2 separate regions of the Homo sapiens genome follow, and region 1 is linked to region 2. The links come from fine-mapping of genetic effects on gene expression. Tissue or cell type: whole blood. Region 2 holds a variant in brackets; the other region holds the start of a gene. All regions are shown on one strand. Distances are from middle to middle.

Region 1 (8,108 bases), 180 kb before region 2:
GGGGAAGTCTATGTGGGAAGAGATCTGGCTCTTGGCAGCATTCATGCAGTCCTCTCACAAATATTCTTTCCGAAGCTGTTTCTGTTCCTGGCTGTATATTTGAGTGCTGAGTTAGTTCACCCAGTCGATGTGTGCACACTCATCTGGTGGCTCAAGAATCATGGGAAATTTTCATGTTCAAGAGAATTTTACAGTCTGGATGCTTGATGTGTACCAGGGCACGGTTTGGAGCCTGAAACATGGTGGTAGTGAGTGCCTTGGACTTGTGCTCTTGCCAAACGGTGGAGTCTAAGCCACCCTTAGGGCGTTCCAACCCAGAGCTGTCCTGATAAATTTTACTGGCCCGAGACAAGTACTCCCTATGAGTACTTGTCACAGGGAGTACTTGTGTCTGCCCCCAGCATATTCACGTTAAGTGGAAAGGAACACTTAAGGGCCACTCGAGAAGGGGAAAGAAAATGAGGAAGGCGACATGCAGCTGTGAGCAGGGTGAATGGAGAAGGAAGTGCTGATATGCATTGGCACTGGTGGGAGAGCCTCACAGGCACCTGGAAGCTGGTTAAAATGAGCATTAAGATTCTACATCTTCTATCAACTGATACTACATACCTCTTCCTGACTGCTTCTGTTGTGAGTCAGTGCTAAGCTGCTTGTCTCCATTCCCTTTCTCCAACCAGGGAAGCACCTCCCAAAGTCACTGCTCAGTTCTGGGCAGGACATTTCCTGTCTTCCAGGGTCTCAGAGCACACTCAGAGGGAACAATAGTGGTTGCCTCGTCTGGTTTCCTCCCTGAATCCCTCTGCTGTGGGGTTGTAGGGAGAAAATTAGGGCAGCATCTGCCTAATCATCTCTGGTTCCCCACTAGACCTGCCTGGGCCCACTGAAGTCACAAGGGTCCAGCACATATTAATTATTCAGAGCAAGGGCATGGGCGGGCTTTAGAGTTAGAGAGGTTGGCATGAAGGTATAGCACCATCAACCTATTGCTTTATTAGGTTTAGATATTTACCTCCTGGGTCTCTGGCTCTAAAATGCCCATTCCCATGTCTGGTCCTTGTGTATGAGTCATTGTGACAGCCCTGCCAATCACCTGGCCCAGTGTCTGCTACAGAAAGTGTGCTCTAGGCCGGGCGCGGTGGCTCACGCCTGTAATCCCAGCATTTTGGAAGGCCGAGGCGGGTGGATCACCTGAGGTCAGGAGTTTGAGACCAGCCTGACCAACATGGAAAAACCCTGTCTCTACTAAAAATATAAAATTAGCTGGGCGTGGTGGCGCATGCCTGTAATCCCAGCTACTCGGGAGGCTGAAGCAGGAGAATCGCTTGAACCCGGGAGGCGGAGGTTGCAGTGAGTCGAGATTGTGCCATTGCACTCCAGCCTGGGCAACACGAGCAAAACTCTGTCTAAAAAAAAGAAAAAGAAAGAAAGAAAGTGTGCTCCCAGGAGTCGAACCCTGAGTACTCTTCCTGTATTAGGGCCTGGATATGAAAGGTGAAGCTGGACACTACCTCTGTCCCAGTCAGGCCCATCCTGTACTCTGAACTGTAAATGGGCATGATGGCCAGAGACCTACTTTCCACATTTCACATCCCTCCCCTCAATCCTTACACTGAATGTTTACGGAGCAGCTAGTAAACACTGCCAGGTGCTGAAGATAAAATTAAGAGTGAGAGTGGATCCCTGCCTGCCAACTTCTCAGGTGGCGGAGCTCATAGCACAGGAGAGGCCAAAAGCTCACATTCCTCCTATCTCTTTTTTTCACTGCTTATCCTTTCACCACTGTGATCTTCCCCGTGTCCCTGCTTGGGGCTTGGCCCTGTTTCTCTGCTCTTTCCCAGCCTCCTACTTCCATGGATGATCATTCAATTCTATCCTAAAGGACCGAATCGAATTTCTTTAAAAATCTATTCAGCCAGTTTTATTACATCAGTCATTGTTTCACAATCGAGACTGATCCATGGTCAGAGATAAAATACACTGAACAATTTTTTTTCTTTTTTTTTTTTCTTTTTGAGATGGTGTTTTGCTCTTATTGCCCAGGCTGGAGCACAATGGCGTGATCTCGGCTCAGGCAACCTCTGCCTCCCAGGTTCAAGTGATTCTCCTGCCTCAGCCTCCCAAGTAGCTGGGATTACAGGCGCCCACCACCACACCTGGCTAATTTTGTATTTTTTGGAAAGACAGGGTTTCTCCATGTTGGTCAGCCTGGTCTTAACTCCTGACCTCAGGTGGTCTGCCCCCCTCAGCCTCCCAAAGTGCTGGGATTACAGGCATGAGCCACCACGCCCAACCTTACATTTAACAATTTGAAGAGTATTTTTTGACTCTTTGTGCAGCGACAACTTCTGATTTTCATCTCAGCATCTTCACTCTGGGATGATTTTACTCGCCAAACATTAATGAAGCCTCTACTCTGGGCCAGAACTTTTCTAGGCATTAGGGATAGACCAGATAGCAAAAGCAGTGTTTGACTTATATATTCTAAAATGGAAGCAGATGATGAGCAAAGTACTGTATATACATACGACATGGTGGCCGGTAGCACAATAAATGTTATGTAGATAAATGAAGCAGAGTAAAGGGTTACAGATTGGGGGCAGAGAACAGGGTGCTCTGATAGGTCCGGTGGTCAGAAAAGTTCTCTCTGAAAGCAGTAGGAGGAGTCAGGCAGCCAACTGGGATGACAGCCTTGCAAGGCAGAAGGAATAGAAGATGCAAAGGCTATGAAGCCAGAACTGCTTGATGGGTGTGAGAATCAGCAAGGAGGACAGTGATTAGAGCACAGCAGAAACTGGGAAGAGGCACAGGATAGAAGGAGGGGCCTTGTAGGCCTTGGCTGCAACTTTGCTCTTTATTCTCAGGTGAAACTGTTGGAGGATTTTGAGCAGGAGAGTGAAGGGATCTTTTTTTTTTTCTTTTGAAACGGAGTCTCGCTCTGTAGCCCAGGCTGGAGTGCAGTGGCGCTATCTCGGCTCACTGCAACCTCTGCCTCCAGGGTTCAAGCAATTCCCCTGCCTCAGCCTCCCGAGTAGCTGGGATTACGGGCATGCGCCACCACGCCCAGCTAATTTTTTGTATTTTTAGTAGAGACGGGTTTCACCCTGTTAGCCAGGATGGTCTCGATCTCCTGACCTCGTGATCCGCCCGCCTCGGCCTCCCAAAGTGCTGGGATTACAGGCGTGAGCCACCGCGCCCGGCCCTAATTTTTGTTTTAAAGGATTCCCGTGGCTACTCTATGGAGAATATACTATAGGAAGAAAAGAGTGAAAGCTAAGTGATTAGTTGCAGCAGTCTGGGTGAGAAAGAAAGGCTAGGAATCAGGGTGGCAGTGGCAGAAATGACAAGACGTGATTGAATTGGCAATATATTTGAAAGCAGAGCCAACAATTCATGTTGGCTCTAGAATCAGGGATCCATTCAAAGTAGAAAAACAAAATTATTTAAAAACACAAACATCTTAACAGTTCATTTTTAAGTACAGAATAATACCCAGTGGCCAACGGCACTAATAGCAAGACAAGAAATAGAGAATCAAAGATATGTGGGATGCCTGCAATTGACTATTGGATGCTGATTTTGCAGAACTTTTTTATATCTTGTTACTTAGGTTTTGTGTGTGTGTGTGTGTGTGTGTGTGTGTGTGTGTGTATACCATATTATTTCCCTACTAAAGAAGTCACTGTTTAAATACTACCTTTTTCATGAAAGGCAGGACCCCCTGAGGGTCTTCATGATTCTAAAAGGAAGTGTGACTCCCACAGGGCAGCCAGCAGTGTCAATACTTCTCTGAGTGAGATTTAAATAAGAAAGAAAATGTGTTAATAAAACATCAAGCCAAGAGAATCTAGTGGCCACAGACCCACGAAGGAACACTGAGTTGTGCAAGCTACCTAGGTAGAAGGGTGGCTAATCCTTTCAGTTTGAACAAATTTACCTTCTCTGAGACCGGACTCAGCGCTCGCCAAGTCCTCTGCTAACGCAGGCCCCACAACTAGGAGCTAGGGGAGCCTATCCCAGCCTTTAACTGCCCGCCGAGAGACCTACCACAAGCCGGTGGTTCAGCGACCCAGCGCATCCTTTTCCTGGCCACGCCCTCTTTGTCTACACCCTTCCCATCCCGGCCACGCCCCCACGCCGCCGCGGCCCCCCCACTCCCAGCCTAGCCACGCCCCTCCCCCGTCGCGCCGGCGCACCGTCCGTCCGAATGGCCTCGTGGGCGGAGCTTGCGTAGCCTCCCGGACCCCGGCGCACACCGCCCCCCGCCCCCCGCCCCTGGCCACCAAGCGCCTCCGTGGACACGCACTTCCTGCGAGGGCTCCGTGCGCACCTTGGCCGAGCCGAACCGAGCCGAGTCCTGTCCTTCCAGGCCGTTCGCAATGGTGGATGAGTTGGTGCTGCTGCTGCACGCGCTCCTGATGCGGCACCGCGCCCTGAGCATCGAGAACAGCCAGCTCATGGAACAGCTGCGGCTGCTGGTGTGCGAGAGGGCCAGCCTGCTGCGCCAGGTACGTCCGCCGAGCTGCCCGGTGCCCTTCCCCGAAACGTTTAATGGCGAGAGCTCCCGGCTCCCCGAGTTTATCGTGCAGACGGCGTCTTACATGCTCGTGAACGAGAACCGATTCTGCAACGACGCCATGAAGGTGGCATTCCTAATCAGCCTCCTCACCGGGGAAGCCGAGGAGTGGGTGGTGCCCTACATCGAGATGGATAGCCCCATCCTAGGTGATTACCGGGCCTTCCTCGATGAGATGAAACAGTGCTTTGGCTGGGATGACGACGAAGACGACGACGACGAAGAAGAGGAGGATGATTATTAGGCCCTCGACCCTCGGGCCTCGGGGGGGAGGGCCCTGCACGCCGCCACCCCCTCCCCGCAGCCCTCACCCCGCCAGGAGCCACTGCTCTCCCCCTTGCCCTCCGGTCCCCTTACCTACCCGCGCCCGTCTGCTCTCTCTCTTCATTTCTCCGTAGTGCTTGTCTTTGTTCCAGGAATAGCGCTCCAGTTACCTGCTGCTGGGGTCGGGGCTGGAGCCTCACTCACTCGGAAGTGCTTGGAAGTGTCATCTACCCTGGCCATCCCCGGGATCCCTCCCCTGCTAATCTGAACTGTGTCCTGAACCCCAGCTATTGGCCAGGCCCCTGTTACAAACTGCGCAGACCACCCGTAGCCCTGCTGCTGCCACCTGCCCTGCTGCCAGGCTTACATCTTCCCAGAGAACTATGCTGCCACTTCACATCCACTCACCACATCCCACCTACAGACTACCACCTTTCGAGATCAGGACCAACCTGGAAAATGCCAGAGTTGGCTATGCCTTTTCAGACATTGATTTGGACAGCTCACCAACCCCTGAAGGGGCCGTTCAGCCTGGTTAGTTTTCTACCTACTCCGAGTGTCCTCCCCTGCCCCACCAGATTGCTGCAGGGGCGCGGTGTGCCTGGCAGCCAAATTGTTGACACTTCTTTTTTCCTATGCACTGGTTTTACACAGCTGTCATTTTTCTTTCAAAATTGCAGCAGTCCCACAGATGTGTGCATTTGGACAAATAGTACTTAAAAACAAAACAAACAAGCACTCAGCCCAGCTCCTCAATACTACCTGGAAAAAGCATTGGCATTATTTTCAATAAATATCAAGCACTAAAAAAAGAAATGATTGTCTTTTAATGGTTAAGTGCTATCACTGGCCTCTACCACTGTCACTCTGACTACCATTATTCCCGTGGAAATCAGGGAATACAACCAATCCTAGTATTCCCCGCTGTCATCTCCAGGCTGCTGGGGACAGCTACCTCAGGGCTTTGTCAGGGTTCTGATGCTCCCTTCACCAACGCATTTCTTAAAGCCCTGGCAAAGGGTGTGTTCTCTGGGTCCTCCAGGGTGGCGTGGTTAAGGGTTGGCTGAGCAGACGGCAAAGAGAGCAGTATTAATAATTAGACCATAACAATAGGCGTAAACCTGGACATATATATGTAATGCTCCTAATTCTCTGAGCTTTTGGATTCCTTAACACTGTGCCAGGGAAGTTCTGCCCCTTAATCCTTATTGCCTATGTGCAGCTGTTGAGTTCAGACTCCAGAGAGCCAACATAGTAGATTGTCACTTTCAAACTCCAAATAGCCAACATGTCACTTTCAGGTGCTCCAGCTAACATTAAGTCCCGGATCCTGGGCAAGTGCACCCATAAAGATATAGCCTGATCTTAACAAACATTTCGTTCTCCTTGGACAGACATCCTTAGAATTCCCACTCATAGATGTGTCCCAGATTCCTCCCTATGGAAATTAGCAAGATGCTTGGTTATCTCTTAAATCAGACCTTGTACTGCTATCTAGGGGCTATGCTGAGATCTCTGGGCCTGGAGGGTTCAGAGCAGTGAAGGGGGTGGCTGCTGAGAAGAAGCTGCATACCTGTGTGAGGCCATTGCTCCAGGTTAAGTCATTGAAATGTTTAATGCAGAGCAGCTTGGTTGGGGATTTGAGAGGACTGCCTCTTAGAAAGGTTTAGGAGGATATGAGGGGTTCAGAGTTCTCTTTTATATCTGTCCAGATGTCCTCATTGTACCATGTCTGGAGCCAACTTGACTTTATAACCTTTAATTAATTTAGATAACACATTTCCGTACTGTTTAAGGCCTTTTGAGGCAAGATATTGTATTTGTACTGGTAAACCTCAGTGTTGATTAAATGAGATATGGGTCTTCATATTAATCACCTCATAGGTGCGGATTAAATGAGATCATACCCATGAAGCATTTAGAACTTTCCCTGCTACATGGTGAGCACTCAGCAAACCATGGGCTGTTACTCCTGGGCCAGGGAACAGAAGTCTCAGAAAGCAAGTCTCTGACTCTGAGCCTGGCTTTAGTAGGAAAATGTCAGCGTGAAGAGGAGCAGAGCAGGTTCAGGGAGAATGGAAATGAGAGCATGATAAGACCCCATTTACTTTTTGGAGTCTTATATGAAGCAAGAAACAAAGCTGTTTTACGTGGTGGACAGGCAAAGTTCAGGGTAGGAGTTATATCTCACCCCTAGGATAGCTGTTTCTGGAGGGTGGGGACAGGGTTGCGTATGACTTAATAAAAGAGGCTGAGGCTTGGGTGGAAATGAGATCTGGGGCTCTTCAGGGAGCTGCCGCCTCCAAATCTGAATCAAGGAGACAGCTGGTTATTTAGAATTCATTGATCACTTCTCCCAGTCTCCTTGGAAAATATACAAAACCCCTTGGAAGAGAGAGATTATATTTGAGACATAATATGTGTGAGGCCAGATAATTACACTTTCTTCCTAACTAGAAAGGCCTTGAATTGGGGATAAATGTGGAAAAGTGAGCAAGATCTAAAAGGTAAAGGATCCAGTGAGACCAAAAGTCATTTATTCCAAACTGATTATGGCCCAGTTATGCTGAGTGGAGTTACAGAAACATCTTTGAATAAAATGTGATCTCTGCCTTCATAGCGAGTCCAGTCTGCTGCTTTTACTGTGCCCTGGGTCAGAACTTTGATGATTAGTTACAGGAAAGGGCCAGGAAGAGAATCTGGGCTGTGATTAGATCTGGGAATGACCTTTCTGGGGTGGAAGTTGAGGACATATGAGTAGGTGTTCTGTGGAGGAAGGGAGGTTCAGTAAGGATGCCATGCCAAGGCAGCATCTGAATGGCATCTGGGAGAACTAGGCCAGGGAGCTTCTGTGATCTGAAGTGTACATTTCCTGAGTATGTGTGCATGTGCACATGAGCTTGCTGTGACCCAGTATGTGTGTGCTCTGTGTGTGTGTGTGTTAAGTGATGTCCTTCTTACATCATGGACAAACAGGTTATGCTGTGAGATGCAGAAAAGGGATTCTGGTTACTTTGGGGGCAGATTCTGCAATAAAAGCGCAGATACTGGCAAGGGCTCCACCACCCAGGGAGGAATTCATGATAATGGCATAAAGCATGGCAAAAAAGAAGGAAGAAGTAGAAGTATGTCTAAGGATAAAAGTGCCACTTTGATCAAAACTATTAAAAATAGGTAGGAATGCTGAATAAATATGAACTTAGACCCTGAATTCTCATTTTGGGCGTAATAGACTTGAAATGGCCGCTGAAATTATACTATCAATGAAATG
Region 2 (8,108 bases):
GTGTCCTTTTTAGACCCAGAAGTCAAAGCCCTATAACTCAATGGCACAAGGACTTTAAAAGCACATACAGAAAGTTACACAGATGGAAGAAAACACTTTTTTAGACCTTGAAGAAAAAATTTTTGGCCTGTCATAGTGGCTCATGCCTGTAATCCTAGCACTTTGGGAGGCTGAAGCAGGTGGATCACTTGAGGTCAGAAGTTCGAGACCAGCCTGGCCAACACGGTGAAACCCTGTCTCTACTACAAATACAAAAATTAGCCGGGCGTGGTGGCAGGAGAATTGCTTGAACCTGGAAGGGGGAGGTTGCAGTGAGCCAAGATTGTGCCACTGCACTCTCAGCCTGGCTGACAGAGTGAGACCCCACCTCAAGAAAAGAAAAAAGAAATAGAAAAAAAAACATTTTTAGCATGAGGCCACAACAAACAGAACACAAGAGAAAAAAAGAAGAAACTTATATGAGCTGAAAATGAGTTGAAAGAGAGAGTTATTATTTTCACCTTTTAAAAGAGGAGAGTAAACCGAAAATGGTGAGATGTGATAAAAGTTAAACTTTGGGTTTAAAGAATTAAAATCTTTTAATTTATTAAGAGTAAATCAACTCCTTAAGAAAATTTTATTGTTCTGATGAATTTTTTTAGTGTTTTTTTTAATATCATAAGCTAAATCTGGAAAGACTATTATAAATAATTTCCCTTTAATTATAGACAACTTTATACAAATCATTTATGACAGCTTGGACTTTCTGTTTTATCCCTTCCTCTTTCTTTATTCCTTTGAGATACAGTCTTCCTCCGTCGCCCAGGCTAGAGTCGTGCAGTGGCGCCATCTCGGCTCCCTGCAACCTCTGCCTCCCATGTACAAGCAATTCTCCTGCCTCAGCCTCCGGAGTAGCTGGGACTACAGGCACGTGCCACCACACCTGGCTAATTTTTGTATTTTTAGTAGAGACAGGGATTTGCCACGTTGGCCAGGCTGGTCTCGACCTCCTGACCTCAGGTGATCCATCCACCTCGGCCTCCCAAAATGCTGGAATTAACAAGCATGAGCCACCATGCCTAGGCTTCCTTTTTCTTAAATAACCAGTTATTTTATTTTAGAACAAAAATTTACCATACAAGATTCTTGCTCAGATAAAATTATTTTCCTTTTAACTTTTTGTGCCAAAAATGCCTGTTCATAACTTCCTTCACATTGTTTTTATTCACTGATTACCTAATTTCATAAATAACTTTTAGATAAGCTTCGAATTAGACAAAAAGTATTTTCCTTTAAGATCACATTTCTTTTTTACAGAAAAATGTTTTCCTATAATTAAAAAAATTGGAAATGACCCAGACGTGTAATAAATATCTACTATTTAGCTTAATATAACTTTGGATTTTAAATTATATGACAAGATATTCTACAAGAACTTATTCTGTTACATTTGTGTAATTAATTAATTTTCTAATAGTTTACCCAGATTACTTATGAAAACTGTAATAGTTACCATTTAAAGTTATGTCCTTGTTAACCATTTTTATAACCTGTGAATTTCAGGTTGTCCTGAGTAAGAACATTAAGGTTAGATAAAGGGTCTTTTTTTGTTTATTTGTTTGTTTGTTTTTGTTTTTTTGGCAATAACTCAGGATTTAGCTATTTTCATTAACCAAACAATATTAAATTCCTTACTTACTAAATTTTACATAAACAAAGATAATTCTTATTTGAGCTGCATTCATAGCTTTAGAACCCTTATGCCAAATGTTGACATCTAGCAGAGATAAATAATGTATGTTGAGAATTCCAAAGCCATTTCTAATTCAATTTCACTAAAATTTTTAAAACCAGCTTGTTTATTGAAGATTTGCTTAAGTCACATGAACTTGAAAAAGCATTTGGCTTAAAGTCTATTTTTCTGAAAAGCATTAGATTTAAGTGCCTTTGTTAAGCCAATTAATTAGAGCTCTTTTCTACATTTTTAGTAGTGAAATGTCATATCCATGACACATAAATACATAGATGTATTAGACATGTAGATAGAAGTAGATCTTATAAATTCCTAAGGCCTTTATTTTTTCCTTGTATTTTAGATTTACAATTTCTTCATAACCTATTTTATTGCCCTAGGCAATTGTCAGCTAGATAGCCCTAAATGTGCATATTAAAGGAACCCTTAGGTAAAAAAAATCAGATAGTGAAATTTGCTTCTCAAAGCACAGAGAGAAAGAGTCTGGTGATGTTAGAAGGAGATTGAAGATGGATGCCAAATCAAACACAAAATTGTAGAAATATATTATAGGATTGTATAAGGAGACCAGTTGTATTTAGATAGGGACTACCTGTCTTTTAACTGGATCTCTGAGCTCTGGGCAGAGCCCACACTGAATCCTAGTTCTCCAAAAAGGGAGAATTACTATGAGGCTACACCAAGTGATGCTTTTACAGTGTCCTTTTTTTTTTTTTTAACAAAGACATTTCTAAGTGTTCAAGCTACTTTCTTCCTTAAAAATCCAAGAATAAACTAATAACAGTTTTAGTCAAAAAATCAAGTAACACAATACAAAAGCAAGCAGCTTAAGATCTGAGATGAACTTGTGTGTTTACACTCTTGGGAAAAATAGAGGTTTCTCCCCAAAAGGGAGTGTGGCATCTTCTCCATTTTCTTTAAGGAATGCAGGCAATTATAAACTATTTTACGTCCCTCATGCAACAGAGGGTAGCAAAATAAAGGAGAGACAGCAGAAGTAGATGAAGAAAACAGAATGTCATCGTCTGAGAAGAAAAAAAAACTTTTGCTCAAAAAAAGACAAGGTCCTAGGAGAGAAGATGTAGAAAGTAGTAAAGTTTTTCTTCAAAATTCATCTTGGTTTAAAAATAAAATAATAGACACTATAAATAATAGCTCCTTACTCTAAAGCCTCCTCTCAACTACTAGTTCTTACACTTGAGCCCAGTTAGTTGCTTTGGCTTACTCAGGCATGTCTGGACAGGCCCAGGCAAGTCTTAGCTCATAGCTTATGCCCCTTCCTTTTTTGAAATGTTAATTGCTTCCTTAAACCTTTAGTAAGCAACTTCTTTTTCTTCTTTGTTCTCCCTTGCACTTACCTGTTTAGGAAAGTTTTAGGTTATTAGCAGATTTGGTATCAGTTGAAGACTGTGGGGTCCAGCTCCAG[C/T]CAATGGATGCAGGACAGAGCAGTAAGGCTGACCCAAATACGTAAATGATAAATATGTCTGCTTTTCCTTTGTTCAAGTGTGCTGTCACGATTGTTCGATCTGCGAGGGGCACCCTTTCTGCAGAAAGTAAAGATTGCCTTGCTGAGAGATCCTTTGTCTTTTCTTCACGACACCGATTATCTGTTTCTAACAGAGGAAAAAATAAAGGCCTTTTAATACAAATGCACACATGCACACACACACACATCTCAGATGTGAGCTTTTAATTAAGCTGACTTTTAACCCTTGAGCTCCTTTAAAAAAATCTTTCTGAATCTCATTACCATATTTTAGCTAGGAAAAATTGCTGATGTTTCAAAAGAAACAAGTATCAAACCAGAAATGGCTTGATTTAGGAAGCAAACCCAGGCTGTTGTGGAAAAAAAAGAAGGCAGAACCTTAGCTATGAAACTGCAGCATGGGGCAACAGCGTTGCTCTTTCAATTTGGCCTGGATAGCAAAAAAGTGGCCTTGCTATGTACATAAAGCCCCTTAAGTACTCAAAATCAAAAATCTTTATTGTTTTTTCTTTTGCTGAGCATTTTTCCTCCCAAGCCCTCCCCACCTTTTGTGGAAATTTAGCCACTTCAGAGGCCTTGTTCCTCATAATTTGGAACTTTCCTTTAGATTTGATCAAGTTGGATAGTTTCCCAATGAAGAAAGAAAGACCAAAACAACAAAAACAGAAACAAACAACGGCAAAAAAAAAAAAAAAAAAAAAAAGTTAAGCAAAAACACAAAATATCACAAAATTTATATGATTACTGAGCACTCTAATGGTAAGGAGAAATTAAGACCAGCTTGTTGTTAATCTTAACTTTAGACAAGACAAAACCCCTATTGAGCTACTTACCTAGTGATGGGTCTCAGGCTGAAGACTGCTGTCTATTACCCTAGAAGCAGGAAAAAACTCAGATTCATCTTCCGTGCTGGGAGCAAGGTCAAACTCATAAGGGAATTACCTGCCTTCCATTGTGATGGAAGCAGGAGAACTTGCCTTCCTTGTTGAAAGCAGGTAAATCTTCAGAAAAGGAGTTGTGCAGCAAAATAAAGTTTAGATTGCAACCAAATTTTTGGAGATCAGGGATTCTTTGGAGGGGTGGCTTTCAGGCCTCAGCAAATTGTCCTATTGGTTTTAACCATGAAGATAGCTCAAGCTGGTACCAAGTACCAGTAGAAGATTTGTGAAAGGTCAGGGGCACCTACACTCAGAATCCCTCTGTGGTTACCCAAATGTGAACCCCAAATATCTGAGACAGGTCTCAGTCAATTTTGAAAATTAATTTTGCCAAGGTTAAGGATGCACCCATGACGCAGCCTCAGGAAGTCCTGATGATACAGACAGGAGACAAGGAAATACTGGGTAGAAGAGGGTGGTTCCCCAGCAAAAGTGCTACCCTCAAGCCTGGAAACCCATGGCTCTAAATGGGAACAGGCATTCCTGTTTTCATGACTAAAAGTTGCCTTTGGACCCACCACATCCCCCTATCCTGTACCTATATAAACCCCAAAGCCTAGGCTCCATGAGCAGACGAGCAGAGGAACAGAAGAGCAGAAGAATGGCAGAGAAGGAGAGAAGAGAAGGAGCATCTGAACATTGAGAGGAGTTCAGCTGGGGACAGCAAATCTCCAGGGAAAGATCATCTTCTGACTCTGTCTCCCTTTCAGCTCCCCATCCGTCCCACTGAGAGCCACCCTGACCACTCAATAAAACCTCCACATTCACCATCCTTCAAATCCATGTGAGACCTGATTTTTCCTGGATGCTGGACAAGAGTTTGGGATACAGAAAGCTGTCACACTGGCTTTCTGCCCTTGTGAAAAGGCAGAGGGTCCATTAAGCTGTTTAACACTTAAGCCATCCGTGGATGGCAAAGCTAAAAGAGCACACTGTAATATACACCCACTTGGGCTTTGGGCTTCACAGGCACCCACCCCTGGATGCTGCCATGGGTCTAGAGCCCAGGAGTGCTTGCCCCAGCTTCTGCACCTGCCTGTCTGTGTGTTCCCTTTCCCATGAGGGGTTTGAACATGCATGGCAGCCAGAGGAGCCACACGCCTGTCGCACATCTTGAGAGGGAGATGAGAGAACCCTCCCATTTCACTGAGACATGTGCCCAGTGTGCTCATGGGTACAGTTTGCTTTTATACATTTTAGGGAGACATGAGACACCAATCAATATGTGTAAGATGTACATTGGTTTAGTCCAGTAAGACCAGACAACTCGAAGTGGGGGTTTCCAGGTTAGAAGTAGATAAAAGACAAAAGATTGCATTATTTTGAGTCTTTGTCAGCCATCCAGTGAATACACAATTTAGCCTGGCTCAGTGAATCTGTATTTTTCATAAACAATAGGGAAGAGGAAGCAATCAGATATGCATTTGTCTCAGGTGAGTGTCAGAGGGATGACTTTGAATAGAGTGAGAGGTTCGTCTACCCTAAGCAGTTCCCAGCTCGGCTTTTCCCTTTAGCTCAGTGATTTAGGGCCCCCAAGATTTATTTTCCTTTTACAAAGAATATTTCATCCAGGCCAAAGTAAGGCCCAGAAAAGAGAATAGGCAAAGCCATCTAGGATACAGGGAGCAGGATATGCAAAGGCAGAGAGGGCAAACAGTGCAATGTGTTTCTGAAAGAGTAAAGATCTTCAACTGGCAGGAGTAAGAAAACCTGCAGCACATAGGTATGATGGAAGTTAGGGCTGCAATAGTAGGTAGGGCCAAAATGCGAAAGGCCTAGGACTTACTTTCCACAATGAGGAGCTAGTATTTGTGTTTTCGCTCGAGACTGACTCACAAGACTCACAAGGCTGTTTAGAAGGAGACAATACTGAATGAGAAAACAGAAGACTGTTGTATGTGGCCCAGGTGAAATGTTATGCAGATCTAAATTAAAGTATGATTCAGAGTCAAACCCCTTTATAATCCTGTTTTTCTGAGACAATGTGTTCTGAATTGAGAACTATTGAAGTTATTAAATGTTATATTTGGTATTCAATACTTGGTAGTCAACACATTTGATAGTTAGTTGTCATTAGCCCATATGCTAAAACAAATGCTGTAATGCAGCTGTGTCACATTTAGTGCAAGTCAGAAACAAAATGAGAAAGAAATGTTAAGTAAAAATAATGCAAATAATTTTTATAAACTTTTATTTAAAAGCATAGATCATATCATATTCCCAACATTAAGAAATAGTATTGCATTCATTACTACTAGGCTTTCCCGCCACCCACCGTTCCATTCTCTGTTACCATGGAGATGGTTAGCTAATTCATTTCATTCTTCTCTACACCGTTTAACACATATTTTAAAAATTTTATTGAGAGATCACTGATTAATTTCCAACAGTCTATGAAATGAAAATGGACAAAACTTCCCTATTTTGATTAAACTGTTTGCCAAATAAAAATGCTTGAGCATGTACCACACTAATCAAAATTTTAAGACTGTCATTATGAAGTATTTTTCCACACAAAAATACGAAAATTATTGTTTTAAGAGTAGATTCCACGATATTTTGTATATAATTGTATGGGAATGACTGTTAGAAGTATTAAAATAAGGAATAGAAAAAGAAAGTTTCCATGCCTGTGTCTGTCAATAGTTGTTTTGTATATTTAATAACACACTGAACAGGAAAATAATAAAGCAAGTGAGAAGTAATAACAAAATGAGGCAGTGTCTATGGAGACACATCAAGTTGTGAGGGGGAGCATTGCTTCAGCCAATTGCTATTGATTGTGTTCAACTGCTGTCTCCTAGCCTAATAGGTAAGCAGAGAAAAAAATTATAATTTTAAAAAATAAATTTTAGAATAAGGATAATGGTCCCTGCATTAGAATACAGGTCACTTCATGCCCACTCACATACAAAGTGTTGTTGTAAGAAAACACGCACATACGCACAGATTTAACCTCATTTTTAAAAGTCAGAAAAATTACATAAAAATGTTTATAGTAGCTTTATTCACAATAGCCAAAAATTGGAAATAGCCCTGGTGTTTAGTAATATGAGAATGAATAAAAAATCGCCGTCATATCCATACAATGGAATACTAAAAGGATGAACTATTGATATTGACCAACAATATGGATACATTTCAAAATCATGCTGCGAGAAATAATTCAGACACAGAAGAGTACATACCCTATGATTCCATCTCTTTGGAGTTCCACAAAAGGCAAAATTAATCTATAGCAGAAAAAAAAAATCAGAACATTTGTGCCCAGGGGTAGGGGGGTGTAGGTAGAGGAGGTACAGAAGGGGATTGACTAGGAAAAAGGCATGAAAGAACTTTTGGGGACAATGGATATATGTTATATGCTGATAGGGTTAAGATTATACAGAAATATGAATTTTGCAAAAATCAGTAAATTTATGCATTTAATTTTACACCCATTTTACATAAAAGTGAAAAAATCAAACATCAAATTCTTAACTATGCATGCTGAAGTATTTAGAAGGAAGTATATTGCTATCTAAAATCCATCAAAAATAAGGGGAATCGAGGCATGGATAAAGGGATGGGCCAGTGGATAGGTATGTGTTAAAATAACTGTAACAAAATGTTAATGGTGGAATCTGGGAAATGGGTGTGCCAGTAATTTATTGCTTCATAGTCCGAAGCCCACTCTTCTTGGCCCAATTTTGTGATTCTCCTCTGGACTCTGCAACTAAATCTCTGCTTTGAAATGGGATCCTTGTTGTCTTTCTCTGACAACCGTGGGTCCTGGAAGGTGACTGCAAGCCTGGATGTGAAATAAATAACTTCCTTTTTTTTTTCCCCCTGTTTGTAATTTGTATCTGCAGCAGTGAGTATTTCAGATACAGCTGATTCCTGTAGTGTTCACCACGGTGGCAAGTTGTTCTTGCCTCCAGCAACTTCCTTTTTTACCATAGGGATAAACTTC

What was found. PIP is the estimated chance that this variant, and not a neighbour inherited with it, causes the effect.
Region 1: it holds the start of LDOC1, and the variant in region 2 is fine-mapped to the expression of LDOC1 in whole blood (TOPMed, PIP above 0.99).

Annotation. Positions count from the first base shown.
Region 1 is chrX:141,173,290-141,181,397 of GRCh38, reverse strand. LDOC1 (LDOC1 regulator of NFKB signaling) reads left to right here and starts at 4,269. Exons shown (of 1, transcript NM_012317.4): 1 at 4,269-8,108. The coding sequence starts at 4,377. The coding sequence ends at 4,817. RefSeq lists an enhancer at 4,705-5,204.
Region 2 is chrX:140,992,632-141,000,739 of GRCh38, reverse strand. No RefSeq gene overlaps it. Among named protein-coding and RNA genes, the nearest start is that of SPANXB1, 5.9 kb to the left of the region's middle. The variant C/T (reference allele first, on the strand shown) is at 3,159.